4 separate regions of the Homo sapiens genome follow, and all the other regions are reported to be linked to region 1. The links are microRNA targets in miRTarBase. Many come from high-throughput screens and were not tested one by one. Region 1 holds a microRNA gene; each other region holds the end of a gene's coding sequence.
What was found. Region 1 holds the annotated microRNA hsa-miR-548aw (GUGCAAAAGUCAUCACGGUU, at 4,448-4,467, shown strand). A microRNA usually pairs through its seed, bases 2 to 8, with sites in the 3' UTR of a target mRNA and lowers its output. Matches are read on the target gene's strand: a 7mer-m8 pairs with bases 2 to 8, a 7mer-A1 pairs with bases 2 to 7 and ends in A, and an 8mer does both.

Region 2: miRTarBase lists RGS16 as a target of hsa-miR-548aw. Seed matches in the 3' UTR shown: 7mer-A1 at 4,118-4,124.
Region 3: the mRNA of CEP350 is a reported target of hsa-miR-548aw. Seed matches in the 3' UTR shown: 7mer-m8 at 4,608-4,614, 8mer at 3,288-3,295, 7mer-A1 at 2,945-2,951 and 7mer-m8 at 2,779-2,785.
Region 4: the mRNA of EMP2 is a reported target of hsa-miR-548aw. Seed matches in the 3' UTR shown: 7mer-m8 at 6,158-6,164 and 7mer-m8 at 3,904-3,910.

The regions. Positions count from the first base shown.
Region 1 is chr9:132,941,267-132,948,387 of GRCh38, forward strand. MIR548AW (microRNA 548aw) reads left to right here and starts at 4,441; the gene lies at 4,441-4,505. It overlaps TSC1 (TSC complex subunit 1), which reads right to left and starts at 3,350. Exons shown (of 23, transcript NM_000368.5): 1 at 3,277-3,350. It also overlaps a transcript of GFI1B not described here. RefSeq lists silencers at 2,958-3,017, 3,078-3,137, 3,668-3,747 and enhancers at 3,222-3,955, 3,268-3,567, 3,928-4,067.
Region 2 is chr1:182,594,568-182,601,688 of GRCh38, forward strand. It overlaps RGS16 (regulator of G protein signaling 16), which reads right to left. Exons shown (of 5, transcript NM_002928.4): 5 at 4,056-5,946. The coding sequence ends at 5,725. Among named protein-coding and RNA genes, the nearest start is that of RGS16, 6.3 kb to the right of the region's middle. RefSeq lists an enhancer at 6,917-6,966.
Region 3 is chr1:180,110,389-180,117,509 of GRCh38, reverse strand. It overlaps CEP350 (centrosomal protein 350), which reads right to left. Exons shown (of 38, transcript NM_014810.5): 38 at 2,635-6,513. The coding sequence ends at 6,349. Among named protein-coding and RNA genes, the nearest start is that of QSOX1, 41 kb to the left of the region's middle.
Region 4 is chr16:10,526,559-10,533,679 of GRCh38, forward strand. It overlaps EMP2 (epithelial membrane protein 2), which reads right to left. Exons shown (of 5, transcript NM_001424.6): 5 at 1,864-6,534. The coding sequence ends at 6,347. LINC01290 (long intergenic non-protein coding RNA 1290) reads right to left here and starts at 1,640. Exons shown (of 2, transcript NR_149081.1): 1 at 1,534-1,640. RefSeq lists an enhancer at 7,114-7,121 and a silencer at 7,114-7,121.

The sequences.
Region 1 (7,121 bases):
AAGGTCCTGAGACAGTGTATTTTATACACAGTATATAAAATTTGCATTTTTATTCTCTCCCATGAAAACAGACATAAAGTTACTAATTTCTAGCAACTACAGTCTTAAAAAGTAAACCAGAGAAAGAATAATCTCAAACTGCTGACAGTTTACCTCTTTCAGATGAATTTAAATGGAGAATGAGTATTTCATGCTACCCAAATTATATTAGTTACCAATTCATGATCTGAGATTAAAAAAAACAAACTCAGTGTTTGAGTGTATACTACATATACACATTTCAAGCAAACAGCCACAGATTTTAACGCTATTAAGTACACTTTTCTTTCACGCCTTCAGCTACTTAAATGACAAAACCAATGCAAAGACTAACCTTTCAGAGATTTATAATATGGGAAACTTATAGGGAATTACCTTTTCAAAGAGTATTATGATGTAAAGGAAAGGATAAATGATAAACAGATCTTCACCCAACAGGGTAGGCTCAAAGTCACCAATTTGCTTGGTTTTTATAAAACCATTAACAGGTTGACTCAATCGATTTAGTCAGAATATTTAAATGACACCCCAAAGGACTTTAAATCACAGAAATGTAGGCCTAGAAATACTCATTAATTTACATTCCAACTTTTACTTCACAGATGAAGACACAGGCTCACAGAACTTAAGTGACCCACTGAAGGTCAAAAGCTATCTGACTCTCTAGAAAAGCCTGAAATGGTTGAGATATTGCTATATTTGGCTCATCGGCATTCAAGAATATCCAATTAATTCCAGGAAAAGCTAATTTTAGTTCACTATGGCCCTGGAACCCAGAAATAAACATACCTGTAGCCAAACAAACTTCAAATGAAGACAGAGCTATAAGAACAAGTCAGCTCTAATTCAGAGCCCAAAATTCACCCACCACTACACAAATAAAAGGCTACAAGCTATTTTAAGAAATACCTCTGTGATAAATAATAAATGAAAATAGCCAGAATGATACTTGAAGCCAGTGGTCCTCAACCTCCGGTGCACATAAGAATCAGTCTTCTTCCAAAATATATATACAAGGTGTCCGAATATGTAGGTCTACCTAGTATAGTGCCAAATATCTGTACATCAAGGTTCTCATGAGCACTAGGGTTTCAGATCTCGTTTCCACCAAGTTCATTATTCTGCAAACATTACATATAGAGGTATATATTAGATTTGCCCTAGTAAGACTGTTAAGTTTCATCTCACGAATGAAACCAGGCATGCACAGAAGGCATCATATTACACCACAACAGTAGCAGTATCAGTTTTTACTCTTAACCCAGTGAGGAAGAGGACAACTGAGTCACAGGACCTGAAGCACTCTAATTTTATGGAAACAAGAAGGCTGGTAGCCACCTGCTTTCTAACCAGGAATTTAGGAACGTACCAAGTGTTTATGACACCAGGAAATGCATGCAGCAGAGAAAGTTTACATCATCTGCCCTTCTAGGCACGTGATATAAGAGTGTTTTGGATAAGATATTAACTTTAGTAAGAGGATATTTTCCGTTTACATCTTCTATAAATACCCCTTAAGTTTACACCAGGTGGTTAGAGGAAGATTCTGCAGCTCCCTAGGGCAATAGCAAAGAATGTTTCACTGTTTCTGAGGAGCCTCATTTGCCTGATGCATGACTGTTAAAGGTGCATTTCCCTACACAACCCTAAATCAGTTTTCACATTTGCATATTCCAGATTTACTCAGGAATGTTCAATTTAAGAATCACAGGTGGTTGCTCGGTAAATCAAAGGCTCCCCAAAGATTAGGTTTTATAATGCTTCCTGAAATTTACAGCTCCACTTTGCCGGCCTGTTTGAATTCAGATGACTCCAAGTTGATCCCAAAATTATAAATCAAAGTATCTCAGAAGAGTATTATTCTATTTTAGCACTTTTATAGCTTACTCTATGCAACGTGAAGTGTTATTTGTATGCTTTCTATTTAAAAAAAAAAAAAAGCCAGCAAGGATTTTAGCAGGACTTCTTTCTTCAGTAAACTCATCAGTTTTATTAAACTATCAAATACTTTTTAGCCTAATTTAGACTAACAAGTTCACATGCACAACACTGCCATCCCAAACAAAAGCTAAGGCGGATAAGCCAAGTGCATCCCCCCACTTCAACATTAAACAGACACACGTGCATAAACCTTGGCTAAATGATAAATTTTAATCACTTACAGGCCAGCTTTGATCAAATAACAGATAAATTTAAGAGTCATATCTTTGGAGTCAGTCAGATCCCAGCAGTTCCAGTCCTGGCTCAGATACAATTGGGGTGTGAACTTAGGCAAAGTACCCTGCTCTCTCCGGGCCTCAGTTTCTTCATTTGAGAAGATTGGAGGTGTTAACAGTGGCTGCCTCTTCTCTTTGTCGTGAGGACCAAAGGAGATAATGACTGCCAAGCACTTTCACAGTGCCTGGCACACAGAGAGCACTCCATTAACGTTAGCTGTTGTTCTTAGGAGGACCGCGTCCCCTCCCAAGTCCTCACCACACATCCAAAACACACAAAGCAAAACTCTTTAACAGGAAACACAAAGAAAGAGCTTTAATTCTACAAGGTCCCTCCGATTGCAGGCTCTTCATCCTCCAGTTCCTCAAATGAATGAATGAACGCCTAGGAGGGGCTCTGCAAATAGCTGTCTCTTAGGAATCCCCTTTGCCCACTTTAAGGTAACTGTCTTTCACCACCAATTAAACACCCACAAGTACACCCAGAGCGAGTCATGCAAATTTCAGCGGAGACACCGAATCCAGGCGAGTCCTTGATCCCCACAGGCGACCTCCATTCATTCTCCACGCCCCTATACCCCGACCCCTCTCTTTAAGTTCTGGGACCAGCCCCACCCTCGCGACCCTTCCCCTCCCGCCAAGCGTCTCTACCCTGCCCTCCGCACCTAGCGTGAACCTGTCACCCCACCAAGTGAGGGACTGACGAAGGGGCCCACCTCGCCCCTGCCCGAGGGACCGAGGCCCAGGGTGCAGCCGTCCCCTCGGGGGCCAAGGAGGGGCGAAGTGCTCCGTCCGGCTCGCCTCTCCTCCCCAGGGACCCGCCAGTCCCGGCCGGGCCAGCCGGAGATAGCGTGTAATAAGAGGGAGGGGAGAGCTCTCCGAACCCCCCTTCCCCGGGATCCCTACCAAGCAAGTGAGTCTCTTGCTCCAGCCCCTCCGAGCCTCCCCGGCTGGAGTCATGGTGCCGGGGCTGCCCCAGGAAGCCCCCATAAAAAGGAGGGGGAGACACCCCCATACTCACCCACCGTCTCCTCCCCCTCAGCTGTTTACCTCACAGTCCCTCCAGCCTACAGGGCGCCGCCATCTTGGACGTACAGCACCTCCCCCGTCGTGAAAGGGCCAAGGCCGACGGCGGCCTCCGCCACGAAAAAGAGTCCCCCTCCGGACCTCCCCTCCTTCTCGAAAGGAAGGATAGACGGCCGCGCTCGGCAGCCCCGCCGGAAGGAAGAGGCTCTTCCACTCATAACTGACGATGTGGGTTGGACGAGAAAAAAAGTAAGGAGGGTTTTTATGGAGGGGGGCGGGGCCGGGCGGAAGGATCCGAAAGGAGGCTGCGAAGAGATCTTGTGACTCCGCGAAGGAGGCAAAAAGAAGGGCCGGCGCGGCGGGAGGAGCCACGCGAGAGCCCGAGGGGGCGGGGCGGGCGGTCACGTGACTGGCGGGCGGGGGGACGCGGCGGAGAGGCGTAAACAAGCTGGCGGCGCCTGGGTGTGGTTGGAGCGCCCTGCCCCTGCCCCCCGAGTCGTTTCTGCCCTTCGCTTGCGTGGCGCCCTCCGAGGGTCTCTCTGTGGGCGGCCTCAGAGCAGCGATCCTGTTTCCCAAGGAGCTGCTGGGGCCCGCGTGGGTGAAGGGCCTGCTTGGGAGCTTTGGAGTTGCAGCTCACCTGGGAAGGGGCGGAAAGCTGCGGGCCAGGGCAGCCCTCCTTCCTGGGCTAAACATTTTCAGAAGCCCGCCTCCGGGATTGCGGGGGACCCCCCTGGCTTCTGCCTTCAAGTAGCTCACACTTCACACCTACTCATGACATCTAGGGGAAACCAGCCCTAATAGGAGACAGCTTGAAAATCAGAACGCCTTATTCCGTTTCCTGCTGAAACAAGGCTTTAAGTCCTCCAAGCCTCAGTTTCTTCCTCTGTGAAATGGGCATAATGACATCTGTGACGTGAAGAATCAAGGAGATGAAGTATGGACAGCGTTTAGCCCAGAGTCCTGCGCCTAGTAAATGCTCACTCACTAGATAGGTGGCCTTTATTGCGAGGCTGAGTATGATGGGCTCCATCCAGCACGAACACAAAGCCCTGTGAGAGGAGGCAGAGTGAGATGAAGTCGAACTGTGGGATATGAAAGGCATTTTGAAGGAGTAGGCATCAGGTTGGGTTTTAAAGGAAATGTAGGTTTTGTGAAATACTAGGTCGGTGCAAAAGTCATCACGGTTTTTACCATTAAAACCGCGATGACTTTTGCATCAACCTAATAGAACCAGGCGAGGCGGCTCGGGAGAGAAGGCCATTCCAGGCAGAGGGAACCAAAGGAGCAAGAGCCTAGGGGCAAAAAAGTGTTGGGTGAGTTATGGGAATAACAGGTTTTGTCATGGGAACCAATTGGGTCACAGTGCAAGGCAGCCATGGTTAAGGGGGGCCAGGTGTGTGAGTAGCCAGCACCGTGGGTGCCTTCAGAATTCTGAAAAGGCCCTGGATGGTATCGGGTAGAGCCGCTGCTAGTCAGTATAGGGCCTTGGTGAGAATTAGAAAAATGGCACCCCTGGGCTGTATTTTGGCCCCTATCCACCAGCCCCAAACCCTCCTGGGCCCTTGAGCAGTGAACAACCTTTATAACCATACGTCTAGAGCCACGAAGGCTTAGGAGGGAGGTGAAAATTGAACTGATGATTCCTCTGTTCTAACACAGTCGCTGGGGGGAAGCTAAGAGTTCTAGATTCAAACAGACCAGAGTTTGAATGTAGGTTTCAGCCATCATGTTCTAACTGGATGAGCCTTAGTCTCCTCACCTGCAACATAGGGCTAATAATAATGCTAGTTCATGGGGATTTGGGGTGAAGTCAGTGAGTCATTAAGCTCTAAGTGGCACAGAGCCTACTCCAGTTAATGTTATTTTTGATAACTGTTAAGTGCCAGCTGTCAGCATCCATCACTTCCAGAAACGGGTCCACCAAACACTAAATTCTTCTGTGTCACCACCCAAGCATAGTCTGCATGGGGTCCAGAGATGGAAAGGTCGAGGGAAACGGGGAAGGGTCTGGGTTCTCTCAGTTCCACCAATCTGCAAACTACTTTACAGGAACAGACTCTTCCCTTTGCATTCACACCAGGGAAGGGATTCAAGATTTCTGAAATCTTCAGAGATTTCTGAGACCACCAGTGATGGGAGACCTAAGGAGGAGGGCAGGGGGAGCAGCACTGCTCTGGAGCTCTGACCCAGGAAGCCCCCCCACACCCTGACCTTCCTTGGCTCCATGACCTCATCCTGCAGGAATGCATTCTGCCATGGAGGAGAGCAGCCATAAGCAGAGCTCATCAACTGCTCACTTTCCAGGGGGCCATAACCACATTGTCACTGTTTCTACACTGTCTGGAAGAAGAATGGGCATTGTTACCTCAATATGGGACCACCAGGGGCTTGCAAGAAGAGGCTGAAGGTGACAGGCAGAGACAGCTCTACTACCATCTCCTGCCACTTACCAGGCTGGGCCACCTAGATGTTTTCTGCTTCTCTGGGGTTGATTTTTGTCATTTGCTCAACAGACACTATTCAGACCACTACCTTCCATACACCACCCTGGAGCCTCCCTGTGACGGGGCTTCCTGACCGGCCTGTCTGAGCATGAAAGGGCTGAGCCCTCCATAGGCGGGCGTGCTGACAGGATGCACGTGGTGGAGGACATCTGCTGCATTTGGCTGTGTGACATCTCCCCCTCGCCTTCTGAACAGGTGAACCGCCCATCCTCAATTCTTTCAGTGCTGATGGTCCTCACAATCACAGTACCAGCCCCAGGCCACAGCAGGTGGACCAGGCCTGGCCAATCTGAGATGCCCATCATGGAGCTTGTTAAAAGAAAGCTTAAGACAAGTTCAATTAGATTAAATTTAATCGAGCAAAAAAAAAAAAAAAAAAGAAAGAAAAAGAGAATTCATGAATCAGGCAGCCTCTAGAATCAACAGATTCAGAGAGACTCCCGGGGTCAGAACAAATTTATAGACAAAGTAAAGTGGCCTGGCGCAGTAGCTCACTTCTGTAATCCTAGCAATTTGGGAGGCCAAGGCAGGTAGATGGCTTGAGGTCAGGAGTTCGAGACCAGCCTGGCCAACATGGTGAAACCCTGTCTCTACTAAAAATACAAAAATTAGCCAGGCGTGGTGGCGGGTACCTATAATCCAAGCTACTCAGGAGGCTGAGGCAGGAGAATCACTTGAACCTGGGAGGCAGAGGTTGTAGTGAGCTGAGATTGTGCCACTGCATTCCAGCCTGGGTAACAAAGAGAGACTTGGTCTCCAAAAAAAAAAAAAAAAAAAAACTAAACTAAAGTGACATACAGGAATCAGAAGTGAGGTACAGAAACAGTGAGATTGGTTGCAGCTCGGCGTTTGCCGTATTTGAACAGTTTGAACACTCAGCAGTCTATGAGTGGTTGAAGTATGGCCGCTGGGATTGGCCAACACTCAGCTATTGTTACAAGTGCATACTACTAAGTTAGGTTTTCAATTTTGCGTGCCTATTAAGCTAGGTTACGGTTCGTCCACAAGGACTCAAATATAAAAGTACGGAGTCCTTCTCAGGCCATATTTCATTTGCTTTAACAAGCTGAAATGGTTGGTCTACAGTGGACCTGTGACTTGAGCTGGACTAGAGTGCTCCTCTGGGTCTTTATAGATGGGTGTTTAAAAAAAAAAAGCAATTTTTCTCTTTCCTTTGGGGTCACTAAACTGCGATGAGGAAGCTGTGGCCTCTCCCTTCCCCCGTCCTACAGCAAGGTGTGTGACAAGTCGAGTTAAAGAGTGAAAGAGACAGAGATGGAAAGAGAAATTCATGCTGCTATCTCCTGCATTTCCGGAGTCCCTGAAACCAGCTTTG
Region 2 (7,121 bases), not on the chromosome of region 1:
CAGAAATTAACATACGCGAAGGACTTAGAACATTGCCTGCCACATACAAGCAGCTACCATTTTTGAACACTTACTTTTAAGTGCTATGATAAATATTTTTCCTAAATGTTCTCATTGTCATCACAAAAGTCCTATGAAGATAATATTATTGTTATTCACATTTTACAGGAAAAAGTGAGGCTCTGAGAAATTGAGTAATGTGCTGCAGTTTACTCAGCTGATAAATAGCAGATGTGGAACTTAATTCAGTTGCCTAACTTCCGAGCCTGCTGACTCCATGATTAGGTTATACCACGCTGCCTGTGAGGCTGCGCCTTGGAACTGTGAGATTAACTGAGCTAAGGCAATTCTCCTCCCCGGCACGGAACTGTCCCTTAAGTGGCATCCCATTACAATCATAAGATTAATCCACACATTGTTGCTTTTCTCAAAGATTAAATTAAATCATTCTCCAGGTTACAGATCAAAGCTTGAAAATCACCAACACTGTGAATCAAGAAACATCTTTTCTAAATGATGGGGACTCCAACTCCATTATCCAGCGCCTAACCGCCGTATATCTCTTACCCTCAGGAGCACACCTCAGTTATGTAAGTTTCAAGTCTTTCTTTTCTTCCTTAAAGCAATTTGAATAACTGGACCAATTTAAAAGATTCGTGACAGTAAATTACTTTGCAGTCAGCAAGGCAATAGGCCCTGACACTTTTTTTTTTAATTGGAAGTTTTGCTCTTGTTGCCCAAGCTGGAGTGCAATGGCGCGATCTCGGCTCACTGCAACCTCCGCCTCCTGGGTTCAAGCGATTCTCCTGCCTCAGCCTCCTGAGTAGCTGGGATTACAGGTGCGTGCCACCATGCCCGGCTAATTTTTTGTATTTTTAGTAGAAACGGGGTTTCACCATGTTAGCCAGGCTGGTCTTGAACTCCTGACCTCAGGTGATCTGCCCACCTCAGCATCCCAAAGTGCTGGGATTACAGGCCTGAGCCACCGCGCCCGGCCCCCTGACACCTTTTTTCTCTCTACCTTACAGCTTCCATTTTTAAAAGTAATTTCATCCCTATAAACTAAAGAATCTCGGTTTAACTCCTATACCTGCTGTGCTGTCTCAGTAGTGATATTAATAATTCTCATTTCTGTTAAAATTTCACATGTTTATTAAAATGCATTAATAAATAAAACTACAGTGAAACAAATGAAAGCCATTGGATGTATAATTCCAAAGGAAGAAGCCAAACTTTAAAAGCTTGCATTGCCTGGCATGGCCACAGTGAGGCAGTAGAGGGTGAGAGACAAGCAGCCTCGCACAGTCACAGGGCACATATTTGAAAACAGCGTTGGCTGACCTGGTTTCCAGGAATCCCATGGTCCCTCTAATACCCTGGCTTACTTAATGCCTCCAGCCTTCCATTTCTTTTTCTGAAATTCTGGAATGCTGTAAACATCAGACAAAATATGGTACTGAAGCAGCTAAAAAAAAAAGTAGATTTAGAATCCTGAGTTGAAATTCTGATCCTGCCATTTTATTCAAGAAGTCAAAAGACTTTTTGACTTGACTAATGCCTACTGTATACAAATCACTGTGCTAAGTACTGGGAATCAGATAATAATAATAGCCAATAGTCATGAGGCATTAACATTGTGCCGCACACTTTTATTTCATTCAGTGTTCCCTGTGACGCTTACTCTTATTATCCTCATTTTACAGCTGAGGCTTAAGCAACTTTCCAAGGTGAATGGCCAGGATTCCAACCCAACATTCCGGCTCCACAGCTGGGACTGGAGAACTGCTTTGCTGTAGTCTGTTCTGCCCCATCTCACCAAGGTGAATAATATGACCCTGACTTTGAAGAGCTCAGTTTAATAGGAGAGCAAAAGCCATGAAGAAAGAAGTTATGGAGGAATACCATATGTGCTACAATCAAAGTAAGAACACTGTGTCTTAGAATCATGCAAGTTGGGAGCAATTAACTCTGTACAGGGACATCTGGGAAGGCTTCACTGAGGAGGTGATGTTTTTGCTGGATTTTGAAAGTTGGCATTCTCCTCCTCGCACCTCAACCCCCAATTTTTTCTAAAAAAGAGGAGAAAGAGGTGTTCTAGGCAGAGAGAACAGCATGTGTAGCCACAAAAAAAAAAAAAGAGAGAGAGAGAGAAGGGAAAAGTCTGAGAATGAAGGCTGTCCAGGCAGGAGATACGTCTGGAGAGGGACTTGGGTCAGGTCAGAGACCCCCTTGTGTGTCAGGATTAAAGCTGGACTTTATTTTAGAGTCAAAAGTGAACCGCTGAGGGGTTCTAACGTAGCCACAAAGTGCTCAGATCTGTGCTTTAGAGCTGAAGACTGGCACAGTGTGGAAAATGAACCAGCACAGGGAGAGGCTGGGGTAGGGAGACCCGCCGGGAAATTGTGGTATCTGATTGGAGAGGATGAGAGAGTCCTCTAAGGAAGCCTTGGTGAGCCTGTGCAGAAGCTGGACCCAACGCATTTGGGTCTGAGGGATTTCGATGCACTCAATACATGCATGTTAAAGGCATAAAGATGGAAGGAGAGCAGTAGGAAAGGGCGAGTGTTAGTACCTCCCTGTCTTTCTGGGTCCTCCGCTCTTCCTTCCCTTATCAGTCACATTCCTCCACCCATCTTTCACAGACTGGACTCCCCATGGCATAACTGAGTTCAGATCCCCATTCTGCCACTCACTGGCTGGCTGCCCCAAGCATGTCCCTCCCTCTCAGAGCTTGTTTCCTTCTCTGGATGATAAAGTGTTCAGACCCACTCCACAGAGCTGTTGTAAGGACTAACAGAGCTCAGGGCCTGCCACAGTGTTGGTCCCTGTCTTCCTTCCCAGGCCCTTAATTTCAGGATCCTCCCTGGTGTCACCCACAGAATCCCTCCTTAGATCTGTGCTTAAGATGTGATTCTATGGGGATTTCTACCCCATGTTCCTGAAGTCTGATCACTTTACTCAGACTATCAATAGGGAAGAAATAAAGGTTCATTTAAGGTCCAGATCTGTGTATAAACAGATCATTCAACAGAGAAGAAAACATTTTTTTAAGTAGTCGTAATCAGAAAAAAATGAGAGGGATTCAGTAGGATGAAAAAGGAGAACAAGCAGGCAATTAGCAGAGGAAGAACAGATTTTGATCCTTGCAAACCTACCCCCAGGGTCTCACTGTGTCCCCCAGGCTGGAGTGCGGTAGAGTGATCTCAGCTCATGGCAGCCTTGACCTCCCCAGCATAAGCCATCCTCCCACCTCAGTCTCCCAAGTAGCTGGGACTACAGGCATGTGCCACCACACTCTGCTAATGTTTGACTTTTTGTAGAAACTGGGTTTTGCCATGTTGCCCAGCCTGGTCTTGAGCTCCTGGGCTTAAGTGATCCACCCTCCTCAGCCTCCCTCCCTCAGTGCTCACAGGCATGAGCCACCGCGCCTGTCTCCGTACCCCCAAATTCTTTCAAGCACAGTTCAACCCTTATTCCCTTGGCCCATGGAATGGAGCAGCCTCATGTACAGAGTGGCTTCATATACCTCATCTCAGATACTTCTATGAAATTATAAAAAGAATAATAATTTCTTGAATATAAATTACAAAAGATTTGTAATTGAATTTAATTACAAATTACTTTTAAAAGTAAAAATCCTACAAAAGTCACCACCTAACTGATGATGTCTTGCTACTTGACCAAGGGGTACTGACCCCTGCACTGTTACAGGCAGAATTGGAAATGGCTCATGCCGAGTCCCAGCCAGGTGGGCAAAAGATACGGGCTCTGAAATGACAGTGGGCTGAGCCCAGTCCAATCCACACAACAGCCCAACACAAGTGGGGCTGTCACGAGCTTAAAAAGTCACTGATCATAGCAGCCTCGTTAGAACCTATCCCTTCTCTTGACTCTGGCAGGTACCAGGTGAATATCAAGCTCTCCCTGTACTTCTGCCTGTGCCATGGAAGCTTACTCGCCTGTCCTGTGGAATTCCCAAAAGCCAGCTCCTCCCCAGAGCTCTCCACAACACTTCCCCTTTTCCCCTGACCCACACAGCACTTGAAGACAGGATGTCATATTTGACTTTTGCTTTTATTTTATAAGAATATAACATGCTGAAACAGGAAAATGGGGATTGCAAACATCATTCATATCTAGGAAACCAGCTCCATTTGTCACAATAAATAAATATTTAAACAGTGAGGAGTTCCTGACAGGCTCCAAGAGGTTCCCAGCACATTCAGAGGTAGAGTCTGGTAGAGAAAGGGAGACAGTCAGGCTGAAACCCCTGCTGAGATTCTCCAGTAGAGGCAAACTGAAATTACAATAATAAATAACAACAGCACCAACAATAACAAAAACAATGTTATGACAATCACAGAAAACCAATGATACAATACACTTAAATAATCTCCTGGAGGAGCTCATGGTACAGAGAGAACAGTGTTGATTATCCTGGGCCACAAAGGGGCTGCCCTGGGTAGTTCACTTCCCCAGCCTGGGCTCTGCCGCAGGAGTTGCCATCAGGAAATGTTTGTTCAGTGATGCCCTGAGGTGACAGGCAGGTTCTGATTATCCCCAGTCCTGCCCTTCGAAGCAGCCTCTCCCCCCAGCTTCTGCACTCTAAGGGTGCCATGGTCCTGGGCCACCTCTGCCCACTCCAGTGTTCATCTCACGTCTGCAGGAAAGAAACACAAGGCTCCCCTTCTATCTCGGGGCATCTCTTTTTGCCTGTTCTCATACCACAAAAAACACTGGCTGGATTTCAGCAGGACTCTCAGGGACCGCCAAGAGACTTATTTCCTAGGATCCTTTTCTGCCTTGTTCCACACTGCGGGGCATGAGAGCTGGAAAAGCCACTCCCCGAGGCCTCCACACTTTGTTCTCCTGGGCCCTGCCTCCAAGAGACAGCACAGAACTCAGAGAGGGCACATCCAGGAAGAGGCCCCAGGGCGGGCCTGCTCACAGGTGGACCCTGCTGCAACGCAGGGTCAGGGGCCACCTGCAGGGGGCCACCCAGAGCACTGAGCTGGATTCAAGTGAGCCTCCTTTCAGGGCTCTCCACTGACTTGGAAAGGGCTCACAGGCCAGTGTTTGAGGTATAAATATCTCGCATGGGGCAAGAGTCACATCAGCTTGCTGGCCTTGACATGACTGCAAGGCTGGACAGACACACAGGAGTGTTACGAGGTACAAGCTAAGGGACTCTGGGCTAGCCCAGAGGCCAGTGAGGAGGGCCAAAGGGGAAGACTCCACATCCAGGGTCCCTTCCGTGCCCAGAACAGTCTGGGAATTAGGAAAACAGGATGCAATCAGAGTCAACTGAGCAACAGGCAAAACAGCTGATCTGGATGTCTTTCCTCCTCTCATTTTCATGGTTCCCTTTATCCACATGTTTCCTAAACCACACTAGAACACTTCCTTCTCCGGTGAGAACGAGAGCCAGTGCTAACCCCCATACCACCTTTTTGCCCCACAGAGAGCCCCACCAACCCTCATCATTAGCCCTTATTCACAGGTCCTGGAAGTGGGCGGCTCCTCTCCAGCATGAGTCCCACAGTATCTGAAGGAGAGACTGCTGCTTCCCAAACAGGCTGCTGGAGCGCATTTTTTTTTTTTTTTTTTTTTTTTTTGTCCTCTTGCACTTGCTTTGCAGAACCTGCCTCCCACACAGGGGCAGCCACCTCGGGGATGGGTGACTCAACCTCTCTTCCCGGCTGGCTTCCTCACTGCCGTGGAGACTCAGGTGTGTGAGGGCTCGTCCAGGCTGCAGCTGGACAGAGTGGCAGAGGCGGCTGAGGCTTGGGCAGCCAGGTCCCGGTAAGCAGGCGACTTCAGGAAGCGTGGGTAGGAGTCCTTCTCCATCAGGGTACGTGTCTTCCCCTGAGCCGCATCAAAGCATGTGGCTGTGGCAGTCTGCAGGTTCATCCTCGTCAGCTCGTGGGTCTCATGGTCAATGTTGACCTGCGGGAAGGAGGACACACACAGGGTGAGTTGGGGAAGAGGGTGGGCATGGCTGAGGGAGGGCCAACGGCAGGCTGGGCATTGGAAAGAGCATCGGATGCTGCATCAGGAAGTGGGGGCTCCTGAGTTGATCACTAGCTTTTCAGCTCTGGGCTTGTACCCACATCTGATCCAGTGTCTGTCCTCCAATCTCTCAGAATTAACATGAGGATCTATCAAGAATGTATACAAACGCAATCCCCTTTCACCCTTTCTTCTACAGCAACCCTGCTTCAAGTCACTATCAGCTCTCCTGGGATTTGCACCAAGGCCTCCTACCTGGTCTCTCTGCTACCTTACCCCCCACCCCTGTGGTTTGTTCTCTACCCAGTCGCTACAGTGAGCCTTTAAAAACCCAACTCAGTTTGGTAGCTCCTCTGTTGTCTCCTCATGTCTTTCAGAAGAAGAGCCAAAGGGCTTGCTGGGCCCACGAGGCTCCCCAAGCCCACACCTGGCCATCCTCCTCATGCCTGACCTCATCTCCTGCTCTTGCCCTGCTCTACACAGGTCCATTTGCTCATCCGTGACTGTGACAGGCAGGCTCTGGCCATTGCATTTGCTGCTTCCTGTGTTGGAATGTTCTTCCCTCCCTGAATTCTTTCTTATCTCTGTTCATATGTCCTCACTTCCCTTTACAGAATGGAAAACCTTACGTCTTCCCAGGCCCTACCTCTGGTACTCCCTGTCTCTCATTTCCTGCTGTATTTTTATGAGTGCATAGCTCATCACCTGGCATATATTTGTCTAGTTGGTTATTGGCATCTTCCCCCATTCAAATTATAAGTTTCATTAGGTAAGGGACTTTGTGTGGCTCACTGTGACATACACAGTGACTGTAACAGTGTCTTGAATATAATTGGGGCTCAATACACCTTTACAGAATTATGTGGAATCAATCAGCGGTCAGAAAACAAAAATAAGGTACAAAAGTAAGGCATTACTCTTATCTTTCCACCAGGTGGCGCTGTGTTCTTTAGCAAATGCAGCTGCCATGCGTTTAGCGGCCAGGAGAGAAGGTAGACAAAAAAATCACAGACCACAGACCAGCAGGCCTCAGGCAGGTCAGCCTGGGGACTGAGCCAGGTTACATAAGGTCCCTGTGCTGACCTTGTCTCCCCAGTTGCTAAGTGTTTTGA
Region 3 (7,121 bases), not on the chromosome of region 1:
TGCCCTTGCACAATCACGTGAGAATGGGCCTGGAACACTTCCTTACTGAGAGATAAGAGCACTACAGCCTGTGCGGGGCTTATCTCCATGAGCGGGAATATCTTGTCCTACTGCAGACTCAACGTGTACTCCTTTGTTCTGCTTAAGCTCATGTGTCAATGGTCCTCATACACACCCAGCTTTCTGCCTTTCAGACCCCATGGCGGAGACGGAGGGTCCTTCCACTGCAGCACAAAGTGGGGCACTTGCAGTCACATCGCCTGTGTTCACGGTGGAGCGGATCTACTGCCCTTGTAGGGCTGATGCATTGCAAGGGGCTGAACCTCCTGCACTGTCTCCTCTTGGTGTAAATAAACACTGTGCCACCTGAGCCTGATGTGTGTGTTGTCTGTCCTCAGTGACCTTGAGTCATGCACTGGTCTCTTCCCTGGGAGGCACGTATCTGCCTTTTGACCTTGGCTGCACAGCCTGGACACCCAGCGAATGGTGAAACAATCTCCGTGTTTTGCACCTTTTACTGTGGCAGCCAGTGCCTCCAATTCCTGAGCTTTGCTGGGACTTTGTAGGGCATTAGCTGTTTCTCCTCAGCAGAGTCATGCATGCTTAACCACTGGGATATGTTCTGAGAAATGCATCGTTAGGTGACTTCATTGTTGTGTGAACATCGTAGAATGCACTCACACAAACCTAAATGGTATAGCTTGCTACACACCTACGCTATATGGTGTAGTCTATTGCTCCTAGACTACAAAGCTGTACAGCATGTTACTGTACTGAACGTTGTAGGCAGTTGTAACACAAATGGTAAGAATTTGTGGTATCTAAACAAACTTAAATATAGAAAACAGTAAAATCACAGTATAAAAGATAGAAAATGGAATGTGTATATAGGGCACTTACCATGAATGGAGCTTGCAGGACTGGAGGCTGCTGTGGGTGAGTGGGGAGTGAACATGAATGGCTAGGACATTACTGTATACTTTTATACAACTGGCAGCACAGTAGGTTCGTTTACACCAGCCAGCGTCACCATAATCTCGCGAGTAATGTGTCACACTACAATGTTACAATGGCTATGACCTCCTTAGGTGATAGAACACTTTCAGCTCCATTATACAGAATCTTCCGGGACCACGCTGTACATACGGCCCATTGTTGACCGTTATGTGGGGCGTGACTGGCTTCCCTCCTGGAGACATTCACCACTGTACTTCTCCCAGTGTTGGTCTCATTGTTCTTGGCTCTGCCATGTCAACTGCCATCCTCTTGACTGCCACTTTCATATATTTTGATTCAAGGTTACAGGTATTTGGTCTTTTTTCCAAGATTCTATTTGTTATTACTATTGTACTATTGTGTCCTCAGCACCAACCACAGTATCTGGCACATAGTAGGGACTCAAACACCTGGTTTCTTTTTTCTGAGACAGGTTTCACTCTGTTGCCCAGGCTGGAGTACAGTGGCATGAACACGGCTCACTGCAGCCTTGACCTCCTGGGTTCAAGGGATTCTCTCACCTCAGCCTCCCAAGTAGTTGGGACCACAGGTGTGTGCCACTGTGCCCCGCTAATTAAAAAAAAAGTTTTTTGGAGAGATGGGGCCTCACCCTGTTGCCCAGGCTGGTCTCGAACTTCTGGGCTCAAGGAATCTTCCTGCCTTGGCATCCCAAAGTGCTGGGATTACAGGTGTGAGCCACCATGCCCAGTCTCAACTATCTGTTTTATGAGAGGAAGAATTTCTTAGGACCTACTGTAATTTGGGGCCAATCTTTTTCTGAGAATTTCCGAAATGTTCATGGTTGTGGTAGGGATTAAAGATATAGCAGGGATGGCCATCTGGGGGAAACTAGAGGAATTCAGGTAAGATGATGGTGGTTACCACTTCCGATTTGTCAGACCAGAGACAATTCATTATCTTGAGTGCTGTACACTTCCATCCTTGGATTGTTTTTATTCTTCTATCACTTCAGCTTCATTCTCCTCCAAGCTCATATTTCCAGAAATAAGTTACAGCCTCCACACCTGGGCATCAGCTGGTTGCACTTCTTCTTTGTGGTCCACTTGAGTGTGACTCTTCCATGTGTTATTTTGCAAGGGTTATCAAAATTTAGGTCATTTGGGAGAAATGGCATTTGCCATGAATTAGAAGGAAGAAGCTCATAAAACAGTTATAATTTATCAGAGAACTCTTCCCTGACTCACTCTACCCTTGTTGGGTCCTTTTATTAAGATATTCTCAAATCTTATGTATGCTTCCTGTGCAGCACTTGTTAGAACTTGTCACACAGGTTTTCAAAATATCTTTTGGTGGCTTTCATTAGACATTAAGTTTCTTGAGATCAGGGACCATGTCTGTCTTTTTTGCTATGTTTCCAGCACTCAGCACAGTACTCAGAACACAAAGTTGCTCAGTGGCTATCTGCTGAATCAATGAGTGTGGGAGCAAAGCCCAGGCTGCTCAAATGTATGTGCTGATGGCATTTATGTGCAGGTAAATAGCTCTTATCCACAGCTTACCTGATTGTACTGTCCAAGCATCAGCACCCTATGACTAAATAAGCAATCAGATGTATTTTATGGGGACTAATTTTCTGAAGTTGGCTCAGGAGGGAAAAAATGGAGACCTGACATGAAATTAATTTATAAATCAGTTTATTTACAGATTTTATCTTTCTTAAAGTATATTTCAGTTAACAAATCTATTTACACAGGTATACATGGGAATTCATCCCAGTTATTTTACAGATCGTACTTACAAACCACACCCTTAAGTGTTCGGTGCAAAATTGCACTGGATGTGACTATTGGCTGAAAATGGCCTGATGACCAGGCTATTTACACGCACACAGTAAACGGGTTTATTTTTTCATGTCTGCACAGTACAGTACACACAAGGAGGCTGAACCTCCCAGAGAATGCTTTGCAATGTGTTTGCCAAGAAGGCTTTGCAAAGTCCAGAAGGAAAAGCTATTAAACATAGGTTAATTAAAATGACAGTACCTCCTTTACATCAGTTTACATTTTTTCTTCACATTTTTATAATACAAAGATATTTTATTGAATTGCTGCACAACCAGTTGAAGATGATTTGTAAACATGTAAATTCCTACAATTTGCATTAAATGTCATTGTAGTTTCTATAATTTGCTCTTTGAATTAATGTTTTATTCACTAGTATTCTTAAGGTAGTAAAAGGAAGATGTAAGTTTGTATTTCTTGCAGAAAAGTTATGAGTCTCTAATGCTGTGCTACAGAAATTCTTTTGCGAGTACACACTTTATTCAAGTATTGCAAAAAGCTAAGGCCACTTTTTTTTCAAGACAAGAAACTGAACAAAATTGTTTTTATCAATAGGCCACAACACTCTTATGAGCAATGAAATCTCTTTTGAAAGATAATTTCTCAGAGACCTGTAGTCACAGAAGGAATTTTCTTTTCTTTTAGGTAAAAGAAAAACAAATTACCTTCCTTATTAACTACGTTTGAGCTCTCCCCACTTTTCCCTATGGTAAAAATTCCTGTGTAGACCTGAAGAGGGAATCTATACCCTGTACTTGTTTAACCCAGAGTTAACTACCCTGGATAGCACAAATTGTTTTGGACTCAGAAGTAAATCTGAAGCCTGTATGTTGGTTTACTGCTAAATTCTGATAGTGCTATTCTAAAAGATATTACTGCTGATGCAAAGATATTTTTCTTAGAGGAATTATGAAGGAAGAGTGAAAGAGGATGAGGGTGTAGGGAGAAGGAACAAAGATTAGAAAGAGGGAATATTTAGGTTCTTGATTAAGAGGCAGAGCTGATTTAAAAAGATACCAATATGGAACGAGTGGCTGGGTATCCACATCTATCTTTCTTAATCCTAAGAATAAAGCCATTTCAATTAGATCCAAATAGTTAATAAGAAATCTGCTAATTATGGATTCTTTTTTCTTTTTTTTTGCTACCAAACTACAGATAACCATTTCTAGAAAAGAATAAGACTGATCCATTTCTGCCTCTCATGTGGAGCCTAGGATTCTTCAGATAGTAAAGACAGTTGGAGTCTGTCAGGACAGCTACTGCCACATTCTTGGCAGCATTTCTTACCAGATTGCTGATTCCATGACTTGTATTTTTTTTTTCTTTTTCTGGAGTCATAATTTCAGAAAGAGTAAAGATAAACTTTCTTATTAAAAACTGGTTTTAGGTCCAAATAATGAAGATGTAGAAAAACAACCTACAGTCCCATTATAACATTTTGAAATTCATTTATAAAAAATTTACAGCAGCTGTAAAGTTTCAGTATCGTAAGGACAACGTGATCCTACAAACAGCCAAAGGATGTAGACAAGATGTTTTTCTGTCTTCCAAATAACACAAACTGAAAAGAAAAGCCTTTGCTTTTCCTTGGCCACATAAAACTAGTATTTCCACACTACTGGTTAATAACCCCAAGAAACCTTTGCTTCTCTTAGTCAATTTGCTCATTATGGCTACAAGACTACAGCTCAACATCACAAGCCCAGAAGAAATGCTGGTAAGACATCAATCTGAGCATTTCCCGAGACCCAATCACAACATTTCAGTGCTTTCCTTATTTGTCAAGAGCTATCATACCAGTCATTGTGCAAAATGCAAATATTCCAATGATTATTTCAGTACATTTCTTAAACGACAAGATGAAACCCAAGAGGAATGGGAGTGTGCATAGTGAAATATTTAAGATGCAAAGGCAAGTTTGGAGGGAAGATGCAGAAATAAACGAACGTGCACACTTAAAGATTATACCATCTTTGGGGTTTTTCTAATATACTTTGAAGCTATAACATTCCAGGATATTTGTAAATATGAATCCAGTAGATGTCTTGTATCATGCTTCTAACCAGGACCTTCAATATTAAGGCATTTACATTCACGCCTAAGAGTATCCACATTCTTCTAGATTACTTGAAGAGGGACAGGACTGATGAACGGAAACCAGTCAAGAAGGCAGGGTACTGAGGTCCCAGGAGAGCATCTCTTATGCTCTAATGTAGCAGCTGGAGTCTATAGATTTTTTTTCAGATGCAGGTAATAGTTGTGAGAAGCAATGCTGCAAGAGAGGCAGAGTTAAATTGTACAGTGTTTTTAAATCATTTTATCCCACTGCTGCTATTGCAGGTGATCTGGAAAAGCCCATCTTCGTTTCACTGAATTAAAATGACTTCTTCAATATGTGTATTGGTTTGTTAAAACCACAGGTTCCTGTGCAAAGACTATGAACCATAGAAGCTTCAAGATGGAGGTTTAACTATTACAAGATGAATCTTTCACTTCTGAATAGGGACACACATTTTCAACTTAATAATTTATCTTAAAATAAATTAAAAAATGTTCCATAGCGCAAAACAAGCACACAAACAATAGACAATATCTTTTTGTCTTTGGTGCACACACTCATTTCCTAAATCATTCAAGTAACAGCATCTCTGACTTCTTGGGGAAAGATGGGAGTTGAAGGTTTGCAGGCCAAAATGAATTATTTCCACTTTGCCATGCCTGGATGCCTGAGATGGTCCTGAGTATCTGTGATTCTGGGAGCAGCTGGTAGAGATTCAGAATGAGTAAGACAAGTGCAGGAGTAAACCAAGGGGTAAAAGAACCAGCCCTGCATTGGTCCTTTGAGCCCAGTCTTCAGTAGGGGCATTTCTTTGTTTTCATGCCCACACAGAGAACACTAAACATAATGCAGAGGTTTAAAATTCTTTAGATGGTGCTCAGAAAGCAAGGCTACCACTTATTCCTGTTAGCCTGACAGTCCACTTGGTGCTGCTCAACTACAATAATGGAAGAAAATGGTCTTCAAAAAGAAATGAAATAAACTCCAGAATGTGAAGTTGGCAGACATTATTGAGCTTGCCTATTTTAGAAGTGGTTAAGGGTTTAATACTGTTTAGAGACTATAATGTCCATTTATGACTTCCATGGTATAGACCAGAATTACATTTCAAAAGTGATGTGATGCATTTATCTATACCTCTCTCACTTGACTTCAGACTCAAAGAAGTGATACCCTAGTCTAAACTCAGAGGTAAGTCAGGTGTTTCTGGCCCTCTGGGACCTAGTAGGGGTGTTAGCAAAAGGTGTAGGATTACACTGTGCAACCCTGCCCACTGAAAATAACCCATTAATCCAGTGGATAGTCTCGAAAGGCAAAGGCTGTAATACCAGGTGTACCACATTGTCCTATGAACTCCATACTGGTAGTCTTTAAGAATAAGTACAAGGTCCAGAAGCACTCTTGCTATGATGGCGATGGGTGTACATCAGGAGGCAGAAAGGCCCAGGACTCACATTAGCACTCAGCGTTCGATTTATTTGCAAGATGTCACACAAGTAGCATTCTCCCCTGCTTTTCACTGATCTGATTCAGAACATCAATAGTATCTTTGATCAGGGTCTCAAAGATCCCGTCGGCTAGCTGCATTTTCACACACAACTCATCCTCATCATAGTTCACCCACTGTGCCTCCTCCTCATGGAGCTCCTGAACCTAGGATTTAGAAGACAATAAGGTTAGAAAATTCCTGTCATACAAAAGCTAGAAAATATAATTGCTGACTTTGTAGTCCTATCCATAGGAATACAGCCCAAGGAAATAAACCAGAGAAAAAAGATAATTCATATGATATCAATACCCCTTTTAAAATTGCAAAAAGTTGAAAAAACCTCAATTGCCAAATATCAAAATGACTTCAAAAATAACATTTGACAATATTCAAGTATTTCATATATATTAAAGATTACCAGTATGTTGTCAATGTCAACGTAAGGGAATATGTATTCCATAAGGAATTCCATAACATAAGAGAATAAGGAATTTAATGGGAGGAAAACACAAAATATTAGACAGAAATGTTCCTCTACTTACAATGGAGTTATGTCCAATAAATTCGCAGTAAATTGAAAATATCATTAAGTCAAAAATGCAGTGAATACACCTAACTTACTGAACATATAGCTTAGCCTAGTCCATCTGAAACATGCTCAGAGCATGTATATTGGTCTACAGTCGGGCAGAATCATCTGCATCACAGTCCACAGGAGAGTATCGGTGTTTACCCTCATGATGGTGTGGCTGACTGCAAGCTGTGGCTCGCT
Region 4 (7,121 bases), not on the chromosome of region 1:
ACATCCTGTGCCTTTGTCTCCATTACATACTAGGGGCTTTTGAGAGGACATGATTGAACCTTTAGCCACCCATTACCAGGCCATAAGGAGCCCCAACTGGACCCGACTGAGATGCAGCACATCACCCATCGCCCTGGAGTGGGAGCTGGAAGTGGAAGCCGGTTGAGACCTCAGGTTAGATCCCTCTTGGGAAGGGGTTAGTTCGTTTCACGAATGTACAAGAATTTTTATTTCTTGAAGCAGAGTTTCTGTCACCAGGCTAGAGTGCAGCGGCGTCATCACAGCTCACTGCGGCCTGGACCTCCCAAGCTCAAGCGATTCTCCACCTCAGCCTCCTGAGAAGCTGGGACTACAGGAGCACACCACCATGCCTAGCTAATTTTGTAGTTTTTATAGAGATGGGGTCTCGCTGTGCTGCCCAGGCTGATCTCAGACTCCTGGCATCAAGTGATCCTTCCGCCTTCACTTCCCAAAGTGCTGGGATTACAGGCATCAGCCACTGCACCGCGACCCGCATGTTTGCATAATTTGATCTCACTCCTGACTCCAGCCAAGTACTGGGGCAATGATGAGTGAGTGTGTTACCCAAGACAGACCCATCAGAATCTAGCCCTGGAAACTTGAAACTGAGACTAATATTATCTAGATCAAGGCAGGGACTGAGTTCATTAAGGCGGCTCCCACTCCAGGGCGATGGGTGATGTGTTGTGATCTCAGTTGTGTCCAGCTGGGGCTCCTTATGGCCTGGTAATGGGTGGTAAAGGTTCAATCATGTCCTTCCAAAAGTTCATAGTATGTAATGGAGACAAAGGCACAGGATGTCACCATAACACCTAGCACAATGCTTGTACCATTACAGCTACGCAAATATTTGGTGAATGAATGAATGAGAGGCTGATTTCCTGAATGGAAGAAATATGAAATTGAGTGTTCTGGGGTGATCACCATCCCCCAGCCATATGGACAAAAAAAAAAATCCAATCTAGAAACACAAAGAAGGCAGACAGTAGCCTCTGAAGATTTTAGTTTGTAAACCCTGTGTGACAGTATGGAAATGAGTGTTCTCAAGATACAAAGATAGCTTTTGCTACCTTTGGCATTCCTTAGATAGAAGCTAAAGGGATCTGTCTGTCTCTCTCTCTCTCCTTCTCTGTCTGAATTTTTCAGTTTTCAGCAGAATATGTGGTAGAAGATAGTCTCATTCCATCATGACCTCATCCTTTAAAGCAGAGGTCTTTATTAAATACAAATGAAATGAAAGAACATGATCTAGTAACAATGAACAGGAAGGTTAAAAAACAAACAGGATCAGTCATTTGTGGGGATCCCTGAGAAGTGAAAATATGGGGCTGCTTGTTCAAATACGAAGAACTTTAAAGCCGGGCGCAGTGGCTCCCACCTGCAATCTCAATGCTTTTGGGAGCCAAGGTGGGAGGATCACATGAGCCCAGGAGTTCAAAACCAGCATAAGCAACAGACCCCCCGCCCCATAAAAGAATGAATGAATGGATGGATGAATGAACGGATACATACATTTTAGGAGCGTTCTTCTCCATGACTACGAAATATTTATTTCTTGTAAGAATGTTCTACTTTATGCCGGACACAGTGAGTGGCTCACACCTGCAATTCCAGCAGTTTGGCAGGCCGAGGCAGGAGGATCGCTTGAGGCCAGGAGTTCTAGACCAGTGTAGGCAACACAGCGAGACTCTGTCTCTACAAGAAATACATATAAAATAATTTAAAATGGCACTAGCAGATCATTCTCCCAAGCATGGGGGCCTTGGATGCATGGAAATGTGTGCGACTACCCAGGCTGCAGGGCTGCAAAGCTGGCCCCATTAAAGAAGCAGAGGGAGATTGTCCAGTGATAAATTGTCCATTTATCAGTTGCTTAGTGTAAAAACCATACATTATTATCTTGATGAGAAATCAGCTGACCCCCTGCCCCTCAAAATGGCAGCATTCTGCCCTAGATGTCATCACCGTTGGGAACATTAGAGTCTTGCTCTGGGCAATCTGGTTTTAAACTTTATTTTCCATGTACAGTTTCAGATTATACAAAACATAGAAAATGGACTATTTTAAAGGTACATTAAGTAGAAAGTTTCTAACTACCCTAAAGTCACAAACCAAGATTCAAAATGAACCTCTAGGCCTTGCCCTAACATTTCCCCAACACCACAAAATTGTCCAACTTGCTCTATTGTAAGTAACCTTTAAACTATTAGCGAGTTTAGTAACATCCCGCGAGGCAGATTTTAAACTACGATACAGTTTCTATCTAGGCCACTGTGTTTAGTGTGTTTACAAACAGGCTTGGAGTTCTAGGTTTCTTCATCATCAGTGAACACAGAGCGTCCTAGAGCGCCAGCCTGTTCATGAGGGGTGTCCACAAAAGCACGCAAACTATAGCAGAGTGTGTGGGAGTGAATAGGTCTCCGATGTTCCTGTATTCAGGTATATATATATACACATTCACACAGACCAACAAGTCAAGCATTCTCCAAACTCATTTGAACAGAGACCCAAAATAATTTTAATGCAAATAACAAAATGAGTTAGTCTGTCTCCATCACATAGCCCCTCAATGAAAGAATTACAGTACTTTATAAAAATGTCATAAAATGCGCAAACTACAGTTCCTTCAAATACAGTTGATGCTATCTTTGGTCCTAATATGTGCTTCTTGGATGTCTACTAATTTTGTTGTTGTTATTGTTCTTGAATAACTGGTAATAAGCACCAAGTGAGGGCTGATTCTATCTACAGGTAAGAAGCTTGGATGTTTTCTCCCTGATTTTGTCATTTCTTTCCAACTTCCCAAATGCATGTCATACAGCAGGGAAGAGGCATCTCTCATGTCTCAAAAAAGCTTAATGGCACAGGTGGATGTGGGCACTGAATGTTGTACAGCAGTGGCAACCAGCCGGGAAAATCCATAGGATCATTTCAGACCGCATTCAACACAGATACTCATGTAGCCCCGACGTTTCTTGTGAAGGGAATTGATGTATTGCTTGAGGGGGTCGATCTCTGGTTCTAAGGTGTTTTGTTTGTTTCCATCGTGACTACCAGAAAATTATAGAAGGCCAGACGCAGTGGCTCATGCCTGTAATCCCAGCACTTTGGAAGGCTGAGGTGGGCGGATCACCTGAGGTTGGGAGTTCGAAACCAGCCTGACCAACATGGAGAAACCCCATCTCTACTAAAAATACAAAAATTAGCTGGGCATGGTGGGACATGCCTGTAATCCCAGCTACTCGGGAGGCTGAGGCAGGAGAATCACTTGAACCCAGGAGGCAGAGGTTGCGGTGAGCCAAGATGGTGCCACTGCACTCCAGCCTGGGCAACAAGAGCAAAACTCAGTCTCAAAAAAAAAAAAAAAAAAGAAAAAGAAAAAAGAAAATTATAGAAAAGCCACCAAGGTAGAAAGTTTCAAGGGAACTTAAGATTCAACTTCCTCCATGAGCTTGGGTAGCATCCTGTTAACCCTAGGGGTGTAAGCCACATTCTTGCCCACAATATGACTAGTGAGAGTATCTCATGGAGGCAGGAGGTGACATTTGTCCTGTCTCTGGCCCCAGGTCACCCTGTACTGCATTGGTGGCTTCTCCATAGGGAGGGGGTCCTATCTCATAGACTCCAAACTTCATGATGGCAGGGAGGATATCTGGATTTGCTCACCCCTGTATTTTCAGAGCCTCACACAGTGCCTGGAACATGGTAAACATTTAATACTATCTGTCAAAAACAAATGAATGAAAGAGCAGATGGAAAGAGCCAATCCTGCATTGAAGAGATATCCATGGTGGCCCTAAAACTACTCAAACCAGATGTCTCTTCAGCTCCACTGGAACTGAGCTGATGGCAAACCACCACTCCACTCAGCAGAAGGTCAAGTGCAAAAGTATTTAAATAGCACGAGGTCCCACACCCCATCCCAGGACAGCCCCCAGCATCCTGCTCCAACATAAGCAGAAAAAGACAATGAGGTGCAAAGAGCTTATCTCCTGGGATGGTTCCTGGGTGGTCTGCATTGCCACACAGCATCATGCTTTGATCCTGAAGGACAAGGCCCCAAAAGCCCTATTTCTCAGCACAGTCTTAAAATCACCTGGAAATCATTCACCCAGACCCTCTGAATCAGCCTGTCCCAAGCAGCACGGGAACCCCTAAAGCTTGAAAACTCCAGCTCTATGGGACCCTCTCACCGCATTTACTGTCGGGACCATGGGCCCCTCCACAGACATGTTTTCTGGGTGTTACACAGACAGGTACTGCCCAATAACTGTCATCTGCACGAACTGAATGGAGCTATATTTAGACTGATCTAAATACCTAAATGCCTCCAGGAGCATTTAATAATAGGCACGCGTAAAGCAGCCTCCCTACCATGCCACAGGCCTCGATTTTGAATCGTTTTATTTTTGAGACGGAGTCTCAGACTGTCGCCTGGGCTGGAGTGCAGTGGTGAATCTCGGCTCACTGCGACCTCCGCCTCCCAGTTTCAAGCGATTCTCCTGCCTCAGCCTCCTAAGTAGCTGGGATTACAGGCACCTGCCACCACACCGGGCTAATTTTGTTGTATTTTCGGTAGAGACGGGGTTTCACCATGTTGGCCAGGCTGGTCTTGAACTCCTGACCTTGTGATCCACCTGCCTCAGCCTCCCAAAGTGCTGGGATTACAGGTGTGAGCCACCGCACCCAGCTGATTTTGAATTCTTAGTGGTGTTCTTTGCAGCCTCCATCACAGTGTGTAATTAGTTTCTTTTCTTTTTTTTCTTTTTTTGAGATGGAGTCTCACTCTGTCACCCAGGCTGGAGTGCAGTGGCACGGTCTCGGCTCACTGCAACCTCCACCTCCCATTTCAAGTGATTCTCCTGCCTCAGCCACCTGATAGCTGGGATTACAGGCATGCACCACCACGCCCAGCTCATTTTTGTATTTTTAGTAGAGACAGGTTTTACCATTTTGGCCAGGCTGGTCTTGAACTCCTGACCTCAGGTGATCCACCCGCCTCAGCCTCCCAAAGTGCTGGGATTACAAGCATGAGCCACTGTACCCAGCCAGTTTTTCTAATTAAGTTTTAATCTGTCTCCTCCACTAGGCCATGAGCCCTAGGAGGAGATTGTCTCTAGAGGGTATCCCCTGTGCCTGGCACATGCATGCAAGTTATGATTTATGTTGATGAATGAATGAATGAATGAATGAATGAATGAATGAATGAATGGTGGATGGGTCCTCTGAGGCTCTAGAAATAGGGGTGAGAGGCCAGCCAGGTGTAGCATGAAGGGCTGGACAAGAAGGGAGAGGCCTTCTGGGATAAGATGGGAAGGAGGCTGTACCCCACACCCTGAAGGTGTCTATGAGTTCACATGGCTCAGGAATGGAGTTTTGGGGCCCTAGATGTAGACAGCTGTGGCGATGGAGGCCAAGGTTTTGGCCTGCTGTGGGGGTTGCATTCACCTCCCCATCTCCACATGACGATACCCCAGCATTTACGAGGCAGCTCTGCTGACCTGGCCCAGGCACCGTGGTCCCCAACTTCAACGCATCTGAAGCGTTGCCCAGGGAGCGCGTTAGAAATGCAGATTCCCTGGCCCCATCCCTTGAAGACTCTGATTCTGTAGGTCTGGGGTGAGGGGGGGGGCGCTGTAGGTTTTGCCTAAAGACGAGTCTAAATCTGGCACGCAGGTTAAGGATGACCATTCCTAAGGCAAGCAGGTGACACTGTCGGCAAATTGAGGTGAGACTTTTTCTGACCCACCCCGATACCGGAGGGATGGCTGGGCTCTGGTTTGGATACAGACAGAATGCCAGGGACTACACCTGCTTCTCACTTGGAACTTGGGTGAAACCTCTCAGGAAGCTGTCATTCTTCTCCTATACCCCACCTCACCCTCTTCCACCCACCACTAGCAGAGAGATTCGGGAGGGGCTTGGGCCAGCTGAAACCCATAGGAAGCACGTCCCCAGAGACCCGGCTTTCCCAGCCTCTCCTCTCCTCCCATCACAGCCCCATGGTTAAGAAATGTCCTGCCGAGTGCTTTTGGATTTGAGCATTGCTGGATTTTTGCTTGTGTCTTGTTGAGACTTTTGAGTGGGCAGCAGTTCTGAATACCAGCCTTCATAGTCTATTCTCTGATCTCAAGAATGCAAAAACTCTTCTCTCTTTTGGATTTTTTTTTTCTTTTTTCTTTTTTTTTTTTTTTTTTTTTTTTTTTTGGCTTTTAAAGGAAACAATACGTTTGCTAGAAAAACCTCAAAAAATAATGATTATATACAAAATGGTTATCTGAATGTGGATTCTGTACTGCAGCAGAAGCAACCCAGCTCCGGAACTCTATTTGCGCTTCCTCAGTATCAGGTACATCATGCCGCTGATGAAGGTGCAGGCGAAGGCCACCCACGCCAGGATGTAGGAGTAGCCGTAGCTGCCTTCTCTGGTCACGGGATAGAATTTCGCGTTTTTGTCGTGAATGTCTTCACGCCTGTCTGTATAAATGGAGGCCGCAATCATGACACACAGACCTGTCAGGAAGAAAGGTGAATTTTCAATAAATCATGGACCACAGTGCACCCTGGGTAGCCCAGGGGCATACGGCCAGAGTTGAAGACAAACTTCAGCTTTTATTCTTTGTTTATTATTATTTTGTTGTAGAGACAAGATTTTGCCATGTCACCCAGGCTGGTCTTGAACTCCTGAGCTCAAGCAATCCTCCTGCCTCGGCCTCCCAAAGTGCTGGGATTACAGACGTGAGCCACCGCGTGCAGCCTTAAGCTCTTATTATTAATAGGTATTTATTTTAGTCTATTGGAAAAATTACAACTGATATTTTGTGGAAGGATATTGTCACCTACCCTGTAGCTATTTTGCTTCCCATTCTTGCTAACTAAACCCAGTTTTGTTTGGGCAGCCACATCACCAACCCAGAGGGTGAACATAATTGGTCTAAGCCAGAGGTCCACAGACGTACCCTGTAAAGGGCCAGACAGTAAGCAGTTTAGGTTTTCTGTGGGCCATGGTCACACAAGTCTGCCACAGTAGCATGACACCACCTATAGACAATACAAAAATGAATAATAGTGGCAGTGTTACAATAAGATTTTATTTACAA